2 separate regions of the Homo sapiens genome follow, and region 2 is linked to region 1. A link means that fine-mapping ties the variant in region 1 to the plasma level of a protein whose gene starts in the linked region. Region 1 holds a variant in brackets. A gene starts in the other region. All regions are shown on their reverse strands. Region 1 overlaps LPA (lipoprotein(a)). Region 2 holds the start of CCL27 (C-C motif chemokine ligand 27).

The links. PIP is the posterior inclusion probability: the model's chance that the variant is causal. Protein levels are from antibody-based Olink assays in UK Biobank. Linkage for the fine-mapping came from a reference panel and not from the study's own genotypes, which makes the PIPs less certain.
Region 2: it holds the start of CCL27, and the variant in region 1 is fine-mapped to the plasma level of the CCL27 protein (UK Biobank, PIP 0.91).

Annotation. Positions count from the first base shown.
Region 1 is chr6:160,587,557-160,595,888 of GRCh38, reverse strand. It overlaps LPA (lipoprotein(a)), which reads left to right. Exons shown (of 39, transcript NM_005577.4): 21 at 354-535; 22 at 1,772-1,931; 23 at 4,788-4,945; 24 at 6,177-6,336. Among named protein-coding and RNA genes, the nearest start is that of LPA, 73 kb to the left of the region's middle. The variant A/G (reference allele first, on the strand shown) is at 3,908.
Region 2 is chr9:34,662,200-34,670,531 of GRCh38, reverse strand. CCL27 (C-C motif chemokine ligand 27) reads left to right here and starts at 7,875. Exons shown (of 3, transcript NM_006664.4): 1 at 7,875-7,968; 2 at 8,116-8,248. The coding sequence starts at 7,899. It overlaps LOC730098, which reads left to right and starts at 4,487. Exons shown (of 3, transcript NM_001320038.2): 1 at 4,487-4,919; 2 at 5,159-5,218; 3 at 5,342-6,369. The coding sequence starts at 4,873. The coding sequence ends at 5,498. It overlaps LOC124902146 (a long non-coding RNA gene), which reads left to right and starts at 2,039. Exons shown (of 2, transcript XR_007061467.1): 1 at 2,039-2,292; 2 at 2,747-3,145. It also overlaps a transcript of PHF24 not described here. RefSeq lists a silencer at 4,913-5,162.

The sequences.
Region 1 (8,332 bases):
TTGTACATTGTACAACATTGTACAATGTACAGAGTATAATTGTACAAGTACAATTGAAGTTGTACAAGTACAAGTGCAACTTGCACAATGTACAGAGTAAACATTGATGTTTACTCTCAATTTTCTTATGGAGCACAGATGACTTTGGATGTGTTACAATATGAATGATAATTTGTCTTTGAGATGTTCGCAGTTGTTTAGAAGTTGAGGACCATTTGTGCATATTATGGGACCTTTAGTGAAAATATTTCAAAGTCTCTTTTTACACTTTGTTACAGCAAAATGTAGAGGGCGCTAAGTGCCCTTGAATCTTCTCCCATCTCTGGTGACCTGTGTTGTTTTGAAATTTGCAGTGGCCTGACCAGGAACTACTGCAGGAATCCAGATGCTGAGATTCGCCCTTGGTGTTACACCATGGATCCCAGTGTCAGGTGGGAGTACTGCAACCTGACACAATGCCTGGTGACAGAATCAAGTGTCCTTGCAACTCTCACGGTGGTCCCAGATCCAAGCACAGAGGCTTCTTCTGAAGAAGGTAGGAAGTCTATGGCCAGACAACCACACCCTAGGACGTTGGGATGAAAAGAGTTGCAAAATCTTAGTGATATAGAAGCCTTCCATGCTCACACAATTCCAAGTAGAATGTGGACTCAGGGTCAGCCACTGGGAAGGAACACTCAGCGCCTTCTCTGGGAGAACCAGAGCTGTGATGTTTGGTACCCTGTGAAAGGGTGGTATCTATAGGAAGGGTGCAGACCCTCTAGGGCACTGGACTTACCACTCCCCTGGTTATTCAAAGGATCATTTTAGTGTCTTAGCCAGAAGAATATTCTAACATTTTGCCAAATTTGTGAAGATTTACCAAGCTCATGATAAGCCTTTCATGGTATTTCTTCAAGTAGTCAGTGTTCATTGCATCTTTGGCTTTGCGGTTTCGGAGGAATGCGGTTTTTGAGTCTGTCATCCTTGAGAAACCTAATATGACTTTTCTTAGTTCCATATACTTCTGGGTCCAGGTAGCAGTACATAGCCAACAAATGCTCCATCGTTCTGGCCTATCTCCATCTTAAGCCAGTCCTGCACAACTAGGCTTTGATGGGAGGGATCTCTCAGTGTTCTTGCCCCTCCTTCTCATGGAACATATATCTGTGTTGGTCTCTGAGAAGAAGAGTAGTGGATATCTACTTTGTTGCAATGCAGAATCCTGGGCCAAAGATACCAGCCATCCCTCCAAGGGAATAAAATTTTGGCCAGTAGCCCTCTCTGAGAGACAATTTGTCTTTGCCTACGAGTCCTAGATGCAGGACCGCTTCCTGCCCCATCTTCAAGAAGCTGAAGGCTTTGGCTTTGGAGGATCAGCAGTCTAGGGAAATGTGTGACGGTTTCATGTCTGTCCCCACTGACAGTCAATCACCACCTACAACCTGCACAGCCTGATGCATAGCAGTCTAGTTTCCTGCCTTATTCTCAGGAACACCCAGAAGATGTCTATATTAAAGAGCATGCACATGAGTGCAATTTTGACTGATAGGCACTCTGATCTTTCCTTTGGTGCCTGTGTTTTAAAGGAAATCTTTCTAAGAACTCGTTAAAGTTCTAGAATGCTATGAATCTTTGGGTTTTATTATTGGTATGTCCATCTGCCTGCTAGTACAGAACAGAGCATGGTAGTCTTTCTCAGAGACAATGATCCTGTTTCAGTCACAGATTTCTTCTGATGCTTCTGTGTTCTAGAAATTACTCAGCTTGATTTCTCCTCTTTGAATTTCAGCACCAACGGAGCAAAGCCCCGGGGTCCAGGATTGCTACCATGGTGATGGACAGAGTTATCGAGGCTCATTCTCTACCACTGTCACAGGAAGGACATGTCAGTCTTGGTCCTCTATGACACCACACTGGCATCAGAGGACAACAGAATATTATCCAAATGGGTACAACCTTGAGTTTTCTTCAAAGACAGACAGCAGCCCCCTTACATTTCTCTTGGAAGGGCCATGCTTCCAACTAACTTCTTATGACAAATTTATCTCAGATCTGGAATGTTGGGTAGAATGTCTCAGGCTTCTTTCTTCAGGCACAGTGTCTGAAAGGAGAGAAATGTCAGGCCAGCTCTCTTTTCTCATAGTTGACAGAAGCAGGAGGATATTTGAAGGTGGTGAGTTCTCATGAATAGAAAGCTCAGGACACATGGCCACGTGCTTAGAAATAGCACCATTCCACAATGCCCACTAAAGACCAATGCAATAGTTCAACCAGGGATTTCTGTCATTCTAATCTCCAAGTCCTGAAGTGAAGGTTGTATTAGCCATGTTCATCTTGGGCAACAAATAAAGGATATCTATGTTGACATCCAGATCTTCCAATCACTTTCTCCTCTAACCTGTACCTGGGTTCTGAGAACAAGGTATCTGAAGAGCTATGTGTTGCCAGCACATGAGGGGCAAAAGTAGGAAGGCAGCTGAGAGTCAGGAAGTATAAAGATTCTGAAGAGTTACACATGCAGGAAGATGGACAGAAACCCAGTTCAGACCACGTCAGCGTTTCTGCCATGAAGGACTATCAAATACATAGGAAAAGTGTTTTCATAGGTTGGACAACAGACATGACAGGCCTGAGAAAATTCAGAAAGGGAATCAAAGGAGATCAACCTTATCATGTCCCTGGCATCCTTCCTTGAGACCCTTGAAGGGCAAGCAGATGGAGCCCAGCTGACCACAGCAGTCTTGCTTAACTGAGGAGAGAGACTGGAGTTTGTGATGCCTCAGGCATCTGACGTATTCTAGGCTGGCTAAGAATGAGAGGGGATTTGTGGAGGAAAGGAGCTCCAAGAATACACACCGAAGTCTTCTCAAGGCTTTGGCTAAATACAAAGCTGCGTATGCACAAGGAGAGTTTTCACAAAGAAAGAACAATAAAGAAAAGCTACTGGGGAAAGAACAACTGCAAGGGAACAGTGAGCTCAATGGAGATGCTAGAGCTCACATAGCACTGGGGGATATTTGAGTTCTGACCACTCAGAGGAGAGACACCTCACTGAACATCTTGGGCATTCAGTAGAGGTCAAAGAAAGCCATAATTTGGGAGTAGGATCTTCGGATTCCTAGAAATAAGGTGACTCCAGAAACACTCCAGCAACCCTTCTTCCAAGCCAGTCTAAAAGGATCCAAATGATTTCCAAGTAAATTAACTGCCTTCCAGAAAAAAGTAAACTCAACCCTCCTTAGAGGTAAGGAACGAATACAAGTTTCTCAGTTATATGACATCCCCAGAGTGCAACTTGCATTTAAAAATTTACTAGACACAAAAGAAGTTTTCACTGTGATCCATAACTGGGAGAAAAATCACTCAACACAAATAGGCCCAGAAATAATAGAAATTATGGCATTGGCAAGAACATTTAAAATGCACCTCTGAGAACTGTGTTTCAGGAAAATGTCAGCAAAAGCTGACCATGAGAGAAATGAATGCATAATATCAGAAAAGAAAAGAATTGAAGAGCCAAATGGAAATTTAAAAACTGAGAAAAGTTATATCTGTAATGAGGAATTCACTGGATGGCCTTATAACCAGTTTAGATATTATGGTAGGAAAAGGTGAACGAGAAAATGATTCAATTAAAGCTAGACAAACCACAAGACAGACAGACAGACACAAATACACATACACACAATGACTGAACCAATTAATCAACAGAGCCTCAAGGACATCTAGGAAAACATCCACACATTTAATATATGTGTTAGGCAAGTCACAGAAAGAGAGGAAAAAGATAATGTGACAGAAGTTATACTTGAAGCCATGACGGCTGACAAATTTCCAAACATACAGAAAATGAGAAATTCATAGTCATGAAGCTCAATGACTCAGGTATAGATTTTTAAAGAGCAAAACTCTGATTTACTGGGGT[A/G]CATCATAGTTAAATTGTCTGATTTCAAAGCTAAGAAGAAAAAAAGGGGGTTCCTATGAACAAACATTTTGACAGTTGATCTAAGACCACAGCTTAAATATCTAGGCAAGGAAAAGCAAATAAGACACAAGGAAAGGGGATGGATGGAAATAGTCCAAACCAATGACATTCAGTGAACAAGAAAATAGACCAACAAAGGAGTAAATCCATGAAACAGAAAGTTGGTTCTTTGAAAAGATTCATGTGATTGACCACAGTCTGGCTGAACAGATGACAGACCAAGGAGGGAGTACAACCATCACCATTTGAAGTAACAGGGGAGAGGAGCCATTGCTATACCATACTCCAGGTCTGAAAGCTGACAAGAAGATATCAAGAAAAACTGTATGTGAATAAATTCATGAATGTAGATCATGTGGATCAATTCCTTAGGTAAACAACAAATCAGCAAACCAGATACTGAATAGATTGGGTACTCCTATAGAAAGACATACAGATAGCCAGACAGAGAAACATTTGTACGTGCATAAAACAATCTACAAGACTCACTTCAAAATCTCTCAGTTAATCCAAAGTAACATATTTGGCAGAAGGTGGAAGGAGGGTATTCTGATCCTTTCTTGTACACATTGATGTTTTCTCTCGGTTTTCTTATGGAGTATAGACGAGTTTGGATGTGTTACAATAAGAATGATAATCTGTCTTTGAAATGTTCACAGTTGTTTAGAAGTTGAGGACGATTTGTGATTGTTACAGGACCTTTAGTGAGAATATTTCAAAGTCACTTTTTACCACTTTGTTACAACAAAATGTAGAGGATGTCTGGTGCCCTTGTATCTTCTCCCATCTCTGGTGAACTGTATTGTTTTGTAATTTGCAGTGGCCTGACCAGGAACTACTGCAGGAATCCAGATGCTGAGATTAGTCCTTGGTGTTATACCATGGATCCCAATGTCAGATGGGAGTACTGCAACCTGACACAATGTCCAGTGACAGAATCAAGTGTCCTTGCGACGTCCACGGCTGTTTCTGAACAAGGTAAGAAGTCTCTGGCCAGACAACCACACCCTTGGACGTTGGGATAAAAAGAGTTGCAAAATCTTAGTGATACAGAAGCCTTCCATGCTGCACGGGAATCTGAATGTGGACTCAGGGTCAGCCAATGGGAAGGAAGCCTCAGCGCCTTCTCTGGGGGAACCAGGGCTGAGATTTTTGGCACCCCGTGACAGGGTGGTGTCTTTAGGAAGCGTGCAGACCTTCTAGGGCACTGGATTTACCACTCCCCTGGTTATTCAATAGATTATTTCAGTGTCCTAGTGAAAATGGATATTCTAACATCCTGCCAAATTTGTGATGATTTACCAAGCTCATCATGAGCCTTTCCTGGTATTTCTTCAAGTAGACAGTACTCATTGCAAACTTCAGCTTTACAGTTTCAGAGGAATGTGGTTTTTGAGTCTGTCATCCTTGAGAAACCTGATATGACTTTACTTAGTTCCATATCCTCCTGGGTCTAGGTAACAGTACATAGCCAGCAAATGCTCTATCTCCCTGTCTACCTTAATCTTAGGCAGGTGCTGCACACCTAGGCTTTGATGGAAGGGATTTCTTAGTGTTCTTGCCCCTCCTTCTCATGGAACACGTATCTGTGTTGCTGTTTGTGAAGAAGAGTAGTGGATGTCTACTTTGTTGCAATGCAGGATCCTGGGCCCAAGATTTCCCGCCGTCCCTCCAAGGGAATAAAATTTTGGCCAGTACCCCTCTCTGAGAGACAATGTGTCTTTGCCTGGAAGTCCTAGATGGAGGACCACTTCCTGCCCCATCTTCCAGAAACTTAAGGCTTTGGCTTTGGAGGATCAGTGCTCTGGAGAAATGTGTGACGGTTTCATGTCTGCCCCCACTGACAACCACCACCTACAGCCTGCACCGCCTGATGCATGGCACTCTGGTCTCCTGCCTTGTTCTCAGGAACACCCAAAAGAGATCTTTGCCAAAGAACAGGCACATGAGTGCAATTTTGACTGATAGGCACTCTGATCTGTCCTTTGGTGCCCAGGTTTTAAAGAAAATCTTTCTAAAAACTCATTGAAGTTCCAGAATGCTATGAATCTTTGAGCTTTGTTATTGGCATGTCCATCTGCCTACTAATGTAGAACAGAGCATGGTCGTCATTTTCAGAGATGATGTCCTGTTTCTATCATGGATTTTTTTTCTCATGCTTCTGTGTTCTGGAAATTACTCAGTTTGTTTTCTCCTCTTTGAATTTCAGCACCAACGGAGCAAAGCCCCACAGTCCAGGACTGCTACCATGGTGATGGACAGAGTTATCGAGGCTCATTCTCCACCACTGTTACAGGAAGGACATGTCAGTCTTGGTCCTCTATGACACCACACTGGCATCAGAGAACCACAGAATACTACCCAAATGGGTATGTCTTTGAGTTTTCTCCCAAGAGAAACAGCCACCCACTTAAATTTCTCCTGGAAGAGCCATGCTTCCAGCTAACTTCTTATGACCCAATTTCTCTCAGACCCAGAATGTTGGACAGAATGTCTCAGGCTTCTTGCTTTGGGCACAGGGTCTGAGAGGAGAGAAATGTCAGGCCAGCTCTCTTTTCTCATAGTTGATAGAAGTAGGAGGATACTTGGAGGTGGTGAGGTCTCATGAATAGAAAGCTCAGAAGAACATATGACCATGTGCTTAGAAATAGCACCATTCCACAATGCCCACTAAAGACCAGTGAAATAGTTCAACCAGGGAATTCTGTCATTCTAATCTCCAAGCCCTGGAGTGAAGGTTGTGTTTGCCATGTTTGTCTTGGGTAACAAGTGAAGGATATCTATATTGACTTCGAGATCTTCCGATCACTTTCTCCTCTAACCTGTATAAACACATTGGGTTCTGAGAACAAGGTGTCTGAAAAGCTATGTGTTGCCAGCCCATGAGGGGCAAAAGGAGGAAGGCAGCTGAGAGTCAGGAAGTATAGAGATGCTGAAGAGTTACACATTCAGGAAGATGGACAGAAACCCATGTCTGGCTATGCCAGCCTTTCTGCCATGAAGGACTATCAAATACATGAGAAAACAGTTTTCACAGGTTGGACAACAGATATGGTAGGCTTGAGAGAACTGAGAAAGGGAATCAAAGGAGATCAACTTCATCATTAACCTGTCTTCCTTCCTGGACACAGTGTTGGATTGAAGGACAAGCAGATGGAGCCCAGCTGACCACAGCAGTCTTGCTTAACTGAGGAGAGAGACTGGAGTCTGCGATGCCTCAGGCAGCTGATGTGTTCTAGGCTGGCTAAGAATGAGAAGGGATTTGTGGAAGAAAGGAGCTCCAGGAATACACACAGAAGTCTCCTCAAGGCTTTGGCTAAATACAAAGCTGCGTATGCACAGGGAGAGTTTTCATAAAGAAAGAACAACAAAGAAAAGCTACTTGGGAAAGAACAACTGCAGGGGAACAGTAAGCTCAATGGAGATGCCAGAGCTCACATAGCACTGGGGGATATTTGAATTCTGACCACTCAGAGGAGAAACACCTCACTACATTTTGGGCATTCAGTAGAGACCAAAGAAAGCTGTATTTTGGGATTGGGATCATCTTATTCCTAGAATCAAGGTGACTCCAGAAAAACTCCAACAACCCTTCTTCCAAGCCAGTCTAAAAGGATCCAAATGATCTCCAAGTAAATTAACTGCATTCCACAAGAAAAAAAAAACTCAACCCCCCTTAGAGGCAAGGGACAAATACAAGTTGCTCAGTTATATGGCATTCCTATTGCGTTACTTCTATTTAAAAATTTAATAGAGACACAAGAAGCTTTCACTGTGATACATAACTGGGAGAAAAAATCACTCAACACAAACAGGCCCAGAAATTATAGAATTGATGACATTGGTGAGAACATTTAAAATGCACCTCTGAGAACTGTGTTTCAGGAAAATGTCAGCAAAAGCTGACCATGAGAGAAACAAAAGCAGAATAGCAAGAGAAAAGAAAAGAACCGGAGAGCCAAATGAAAATTAAAGAACTGAGAAAAGGTACATCTCTAATGAAGAACTCACTGGATGGCCTTATCATCACTTTAGACATTACGGTAGGAAAGGTGACCTAGAAAATAATTCAATAGGAGCTACACAAATCACAGGACAGACAGACAGACCAACAGACAGAAACACACACACACACACACACACACACACACACACACACACACACACACAAAGACTGAACCTATTAATCAACAGAGCCTCAAGGGCATCTAGGAAAAATCCACACATTTAATATATGTGTTAGGCAAGTCACAGAAGGAGAAGAAAAAGATATCATGACAGACATTATACTTGAAGCGATGATGGCTCGCAACACGCCAAATATACAGAAAACAAGAAACTCATAGTCAAGAAGCTAAATGACTC
Region 2 (8,332 bases), not on the chromosome of region 1:
GAAAGAGAAAAGAGTTTCCTCCACAAAAAGGGAGAGAGAGGCGATGGGGAGCTATCCAGTGGGAAAGTATTCTGCTACCAACTCATGGACTGCAATTCACTTCTGACACTAGCCACGTAGAGTTAGCACCAGATTCCACAGGTTTAAGGGAAAGGTCCCCAACAAGACTGTCCCCAGTTTAGATACCAGCCACAAGTAGGGTCTCCAAGCCACCCACATTTCTGGCCAACTGGCTACAAGTCTGAGAAGTTCCCAAAACCCGTCAGTTTTGATAATTTGCTAGAGTGACTCACAGAACTCAGGAAAGTGCTGTGTTTAATTAGTTTATTAAGGGTATAAATCAGAAACAGCCAAATGAAAAGACACACAGGATGAAGTCTAGGAGGGTCTCAAATGCAGAGCTTCTCTCAGTGGTTTCTCCTTGTGGAGACATAAGGTGCATCAGCCTCCTGGGACATCAATGTGTTCATCAACCAGAAAGTTTTATGAGCTTTGGTGTCCAGAGTTTTTTTTGAGATTTCCTTACATCAGCATAATTGAATTATTGGCCACATACCTGAATTCAATCTCCAGCGCCCCCTTCCTCCCCAGAGGTCAGCCTGGCCCAAAGTCTCAACTCTCTAATCACATGGTTGGTCTTTACTGTGACCAACCTCTAACCTGAGCCATCTCATCTCTTAGCATAAACCCAGGTGTGTTCCAAGGGGCTCATGAGTAATAAAGACACTCCTATTACTTGGGAAATTCCAAAGGTTTAGTCTCCCTCTCAGGAGCCAGGGACAAAAGGCAGTCAAATTCTTTATTACACACCATTAGGGAAGGAAGTTTCTGAACGTAGAAAATGAAAGTTTTAGGGGGCCATAAATAGGAGACAGCCACAGCCTCCTACAGATCCACACACACTCATGGACCCTCAGTCTTCCAAGGACTCCCTCGCCCTCATGATCATGATCCCTCTCCTGCTTGCTCTCCCCATCCAACCTCACACACAGTCTCACAGACTCCACACAAGCAGAAGGACTCCTGCACACCCATGCACACCTGCTGCTCCCAGGGACTCTCCTCATTTGTCCATCTCTGCTCATCCTCCATGGCCTCTTGTGTGTGTGGCAACACTCCTCTTCTCAGCATATTGGTTTTCTTGCCATGAGTGAGTAAAATGGGGCAGGGGTTAAACGGTACGGAGGGGCATGGCAGGGATCAATGTGCAGGTCTCAGGGGTCTGTAAAGGAAGCTGAGTTCATGTTGTGAATCCAAAAGTATCTGAGATGGGTCTCAATCAATTTAGAAAGTTTATTTTGCCAAGGTTGAGCACACACTCATGACATGATACAGCCTCAGGAGGTTCTGACAACACATGCTAAAGGTGGTCGGTGCACAGCTTGGTTTTATACATTTTGGGGAGACATGAGACATCAATCAATACGTGTAAGGTGTACACTGGTTCAGTCTGGAAAGGCGGGACAACTCGAAGTGGGGGCTTCCAGGTCATAGGTAGATAAGAGACAAAAGGCTGCATTTTTTGGGGTCTTTGATCAGCCTTTCACTGAATACACAATTTACATGGAGTGGGGAGTAAAGGAATAGTCACACTGATGCCTTAGTCTGGCTCAGTGGATCTGCATTTTTGCATAAACAATAGGGCAGAAGCAGCAATCAGATACACATTTGTCTCAGGTGAGCAGAGGGATGACTTTGAGTTCTGTCTATTGTCCTGCACCTGTGAAGATAAGCTATCAGTTTACATTGCCAGGGTGAAATTCAGCACAACTGTTTTAAGGTAAAGATCTTGAGGCCCATAAGGAATTTCCCTGTGGACAAATTGTGAGGGAGGTATGTAGCTTTTTCTTTGTAGCTATCTCTTTTAGGAATAAAACAAGAGGCAGGTTTGCCTGACACAATTCCCAGCTTGACTTTCCCCTTGGTTGAATGATTTGGGGGTTCTGAGATTTATTCTCCTTTCACAATATCAACATCCAGGTTCTGAGACTGATATGCACCTGAGACTGTACATATGCCAAATGGGTGTGCCCTTGTGATGACTTTACGTCCTGTGTGACATGGGTATACCTGTGCATTGTGTGTATTCCTTTGCAGTCTATGTGTGTGCCTGTGTGGTGTGGGTATGCCTATGCCCTTTGTGTGCACCTGTGTGATGTAGATGTGCCTGTACCCCAGCTGTTCCTGTATGTATCAGTGCCTGGATGGGTCCTGGAGCCTCTGGCTGCTCTTCTCTTTATAGGCTCTGTCTCTCTAGCCTGGACTTCCCAGAGGAAGAAGAGAACAGTGCATGTGGGTGGAGTAGAGAGCAACACTAAAGCTCTGGACACAGATATCCCAAGTTCCAGTCAGGGCTATGGCCTTCCCATCTTAAGCCCTAAAGCTAATACTCACTCCCTAGCTCTGGGAGATACCAACAACTCTGGGGACTCTGCCTCTTAGCAAATCAACACCCAATTCCTGGGAACATTTTTGGTGCCTTCTGCTACCTCCTCTTCAGGGATGGCTGCAGGGCACTTTGTCCTATGAGTCGGGGTGGAGAATGTCCAGTCTCCTCCCCTCCCAATCACTTCCTCCATCATCCAGGTCTCCATTCACCATGTTACTTCCTTCACTTCTCCTTGCCCAATCCCTCCCACAAGGAAGCCCCTAAAACAGGTTCCCAGATCTGGTCCCCAGCATCTGCCCCTCACACCAGGGCCTTTCAGGAAGATGAGTTCTATGGCTCCATTCTCTCTGACTCCAGATTCACCACACTGAAAGGCAGCCTCTAGACCAGCCCTGGATGGATTGCACAAACTGGAGACTGCGGAAGACCTCTGCCAAGGAAAGCCTGGCCCTCCCCAGTCCTGTCTGCCCCCTCTGAGCCCTGTCTAAGATTACAGCCCATGGCCCTTCCTCTCCTTCCTTTCCCAGAGCAAGAGCCACAGCAGTTAGCCCATGACAGTGCCAGAGACAGCCCTGGCCTGGGGAACCAAGGACCAGAAGGGAAGACCAGGCCTCTAGTTCCTCGGCACCAGACCTGACCCAGCCAGGCCTGGAGTGTCAACATGAGTGTGAATGTGAGTGAAAGGGTGAACGTGGTGAAAGCATAGCTTCTGAACTCCCAGACTGCAGTGCTTCCAATAAAACCACCTAGCACCCATGGATCTCTCTGTCTGCTCTCTGTATGTGGCTCAGACAAGGGAAGACAAGAATGAGAGGGAGAAAGAGGGTGGGATGAGGGAGAGAAGAGGGGTATCCATTCCTCACATTTCAACCAGAGGAAACTTTCACCCCACTTATTTCTGGTCACTCCCTCCTATACAGTCAGCCCAGCCCCAAAACTGTCTTTCCCCTTACTCAAACCGACTACAGCTCAGTACTGGGCCTTGACTGGGATGTCAGAGCTCTGGGGCAGCTATTTCCAACCTCCCACACTGGGTTGATTGCCCTTTCTTGACACCTTCTACTTCTTCCAGCCAGCCTGCTCCATTTATAGTAAGAATCTCACTATTCTCTTTTGATCCTCCCAGCTCTACCCCTACCTCTCAGAGGGCAGACAAGGTGCCTGTCTTGTTTGTTGGTTGTTTTGTTTTGTTTTGTTTGAGACGGAGTCTCACTCTGTCACCCAGGCTGGAGTGCAGTGGTGCGATCTCAGCTCACAGCAACCTCCGCCTCCCAGTTTCAAGCAATTCTCTGCCTCAGCCTCCCGAGTAGCTGGGATTACAGGCGCCTGCCACCACGCCCGGCTAACTTTTGTATTTTTAGTAGAGACGGGGTTTCACCATCTTGGCCAGGCTGGTCTTGAACTCCTGAACTCGTGATCCACCCACCTCGGCCTCCCAAAGTGCTGGGATTAAAGGCGTGAGCCACCGTGCCCGGCCACCTGTCTTCTTTACTACTACATCCCCATGCCCAGCACAGTGCCTGACACACAGGTGGTCATTCAGCAAATATTTGTTGATTGAATGAATGTAGCAAAAAAAAAAAAAAAAAATCACAAGAAGATAGGTCTCAGACCAGAGAGGAAGGGCAATGACCCTCCGGCCATTCAGTGACTTAGCCGAGGCCACTCAACTAGGTATTTCCGTAGCCTGGCCTTTTCTAGACTGGACTCTATCTGAGGACCTATTCCTCCTCGGCCCAGGGTCATACAAGGGGAGGAAGGCAGGCAAGAGAGGCACTCGGCAGGGCAGAAGCCCAGGGAGGGGTAGAGGAGACGTGGGGATTAAGAAAACAGTACTGGACTTAGTCCCAACTCTCTTTTCTTGCTGCCTGCTGCGGAAGCCTCGGCCCCCCAAGGTGTAGCTCCAAAACCTGACCTGACACCTATAAAAGAGGGTCCTTTGCCCGCATCTTAATCAACCGACCCCGCCCCTGGCCTCACCCCGTAAGATGACGTTTCGACTCCGCCTCCTCTGGGAGACATGAACACCCCACCCCTTCCGGGGGACAGGCAAACCTAGTGCGCAACGGCATCCCTGTGACGTAATAGTAACGGTCCGTTTCCGGGGTGGAGCCAGGGAGGGCGGGAGTTTAGGCTGCGCTGACCCCTCTCAGCCCCCCCTCCAGGTGACCCCAGCCCCTGAAAATCCTCACCCAGGGCCCCAAATCTCCCAGCCCCATGACCGCCAAACCTCTCGCCCTGGCCCCCTAAATGCCCCAGGCCCCGGAGATGACCGGCCTCCTCACCCCTTAACTTCCAGTGCCTCCCAAATCTCCAAGCCCACCCTGTCCCGTGGTGGCAACTGAGGCTTCTCGGGGGCATCAGCCTCAGATTACCTGAGAACTGGGCAGCCTCGTCCTGAGAATGACGGAGAAGGGGACCTGGGGCTAGGGAATCCCTGATTCAATCATGCCGCTCCCCAGGAGACGTTCGGAGCCCAGGACATGTCGGGAATGAGGAGATACGAGGTGGCGCTGGAGGCGGAGGAGGAGTGAGTGGAGGCGGGTTCTGCGGAGGAGGAACCAGGCGGCTCCGGGGTGGGGGAGGGTGGAGTTCTGCGGGGGCGAGGGGTGGGCAGGGCGAGCCTCCCAGGGGCGTGGGCGCGAAGGGAGCCGCTTTTAGAGGCGGGGCGGAGCCTTCCTCGACGGCGAGGCACCGCGGGGCGGAGTCTGTAGGGTCAGCTCCTCCCCGCCCCGCCCCGCCCCGCCCGGCTCTGCCCTCTCTCTGCAGGATCTACTGGGGCTGTTTCTACTTTTTCCCCTGGCTTCGCATGTGGCGGAGGGAGCGGAGGTGAGGAGGCTGCGATACCGCGGACCCGCCCCGGGCATGGACGGGACTCAGTCTCTGAGGACCCATCGGGGGGAATCCGGTAGCTCCCGCCCCGCCTCATGCCAGTGTCGGGTCGCCCCACAGCTCGGCGCACCCCGGGGAGCAGAAGCTGGAGCCTCTGCGAGGCCTGATGAGCTGTCTGTCCAGCGGCCTGGGTCCTACTCCCCAGCGCTCGGGTCGTGGCTTCCCCCGCCGCAGCCCCACCGCCGCTGCCCAGCCAGCCAGTGCATTAAAGATTTAAACCGAAGCCCACCGTACTGACCTCCTGACTCTGCCGCCGCTGTCGCCATTCGAGCCGAGCGCCCCTCCCCACACGGGCTCTGTTCCGTACTGACAGGGCGTCCCTCCCTGGAAGGGTGCCCTTCCACGTCAAAGCCCCTCATCAGTGTCAGGCCTCCTGTTACTATCAATGGCTGTCTCCCCCAATCCCAACCCCCAAAAACCCATACTGTGAGTCGCCTATATGAAGAGAACTAAATAATCCTGCCTGTTACTCCCTTCCTCGGAGCGAGGACTTTGCCAGCTGTCTGAAGAATCTTCTCTGCTGGGAGTATATCTAAAACATTTTAAGCAGAGGTGTAGGATGCAGGCTGTAAATGGTAAGAGGGGGAGATTCCTAGAAGCTGCCTGCCACAGAGGAGCGACTTGGGTTGGCGACCTTTCCTACAGTTCATACCCCAACTTTTGGCTCCTCCAGTCTGATCCCAAGTTTAGAGATCCTTGGCATCAGCCTACCTAGAAGTTCTTGCTCCCTCCCTAGGAGAGTCCAAGGGCCACTGCTCTTTGCCGCCCCCTTCTGTCACCCAATCAGCCTGGGACCCACTAACTCCTCAAGTGGTGAGAATCAGGGACTGCTATGTGGGCCTGCCTTCAGTTAGGGACTGGACCCAGCACCAGAAAGGGCACCACAAGATTAAGTTAAAGAAAGAGATGGCCCAGTTTCTGGCTGGGGCCAAAGCTACAGCAGATTGTGGCTGGGGAGAAGACTTGGTCTTAAAGGGGAGAGATGGGTGCACACCCAAAAGCATTTGTTTTCTGCCTTCCGAAGACTTCTGGACCGACAAGCCCAGGGAAGACCAGAAAGTATGTAGCGCACAGCCAAGTGATGAAGAAGGTCTATGACAAGCCCGAGGAACCTGGGAGATTTCCTTGGGATTTCCTCAGTGGCTACACCCAACAAGCCTTGGGACACAAGAGAAAGGCCTAAGCCCTATCCCAAGAGAAAGCCTACTCCATAGAGAGTGGCTGACCCTACAGCAGACGACTGCAACAAGATAAGGGCTGGATTACTGTGTTATGACTTGGTTTATGTTTCAAATATAGAGCAGGACTTGCAGATTGAGATCCCTGGACCAGGAGTGGGAAATTCTTAAAGGAGCCAGGGGCACTGAACTTGGCAGCATACCCCCACCCTAGGCAGCTCCCAGCTTCCTGGAAAGGACTGGATAAAGATGAATAGGAGCTTTGCATTGCAGGGAGGGGGTAAAGAACGGAGTGACAGCTGGGTATGGGATTAGGAGAGAAGCGGCTATAGCTGGAGGGTGGGATGCAGGGGGTATAGCAGTTGGACATGAGGGTGTGACTGAACCCGGGTAGGGAGAGGGGATGTTCCTCCAGGCCCAGGAAGGAGGCTGGAATTTGAGTAAAACAAAGATGTAATTGAGTGCTTGAGTCCAATGTCTTCAACAAGTCAGGGACTGGATCTGGAGACCCTAGGCCCCTGCTGGCAAGAGGTTGGCATTCCTGGAACAGGACTAGACAAAAACAGGAAGGTAAGATTCACTGGGCCTTTTACCTGTTTTGACAACAGTAACCTAGCACCAAAGAGCTTTTATCTTCCCTCCTTATCTACCCCACCTTTCCTCCCTGTCTCATCATCCTGGGGAAAGCTGCCCCACCTCAGCATCTCCAAAACACCCTTAATATTACCATAAAGGGCCTTCCCCCAGCTTCTCTGAATGGGGCTGGCCTCAGCCAAGAACCCTCCTCAGCCAGAAGGGCCTGCTCTAGGGACCCATTCCCATCCATTTCTTCTGATAAGACAGGCAGGCCAAGCCAGGAAGTGGGGAGGAGAAGGTGAAGGCAAGTTGGTGCTTGCCTGCCCTCTGCTCCCACCCCACCCACAACTCCCCTGTCAGAATCTGTGTGTGCTAGTGTGAATTTGCTTGTGATTGGATGACTGTGAAAACACAATTGGGTGGGAGAGGGACTTTGAGTATAACCGGGGCTATATAATTTTGTCTACGGTTGTCTGATCATGAGTATGACTTTGTGAGGTTGACCAAGTGATTGAGGAGTGACTTTGAATGTGTGGCTATGCGTATTTGAGTGTGAATGTCTATCATTAGATGCTGCTGTGGATGCTTGACTGCCCTTACTCACTGTTCCATCAGTCCCTACATCACACACTAATCCTTCCCCCAGCTTCACTGCCCAGAGCTTAGGAGCACATGGGAAATGGCTATCCTAGATGAGGAAGGAGTCTGTGGCAACAGGCCGAGAATTAGGGCCCAGGAGTGTCACAGGTTACACAGTACATCTCCAACTGCCTCTGACTCACCTAGTGCCCCAGGTAAAAGGCACCCAGATAAAAGGTAGGGGAGGAGGAGAGAGAGAGAAGGAAGAGTCTAGGCTGAGCAACATGAAGGGGCCCCCAACCTTCTGCAGCCTCCTGCTGCTGTCATTGCTCCTGAGCCCAGACCCTACAGCAGGTGAGTACTTGGGGGTATAGAAAGCTGGGGGTCTGGGTGAATGGGATGAAGTTGAAAAGACCCAGGAAATCCAACCTAACCTCCAGCTGTCTGGCAGAGAGGTTCTTGGTCAGGATCCCTCTGAACACATGGCCCTGTTGCCCCTAGCATTCCTACTGCCACCCAGCACTGCCTGCTGTACTCAGCTCTACCGAAAGCCACTCTCAGACAAGCTACTGAGGAAGGTCATCCAGGTGGAACTGCAGGAGGCTGACGGGGACTGTCACCTCCAGGCTTTCGTGTGAGCTCCCACCCCTGATACCCCTGACTCTGACCTCAGTCCCAACCCCTAATGCTGATCCCAACCCCAGCCCTAACTGCTAAT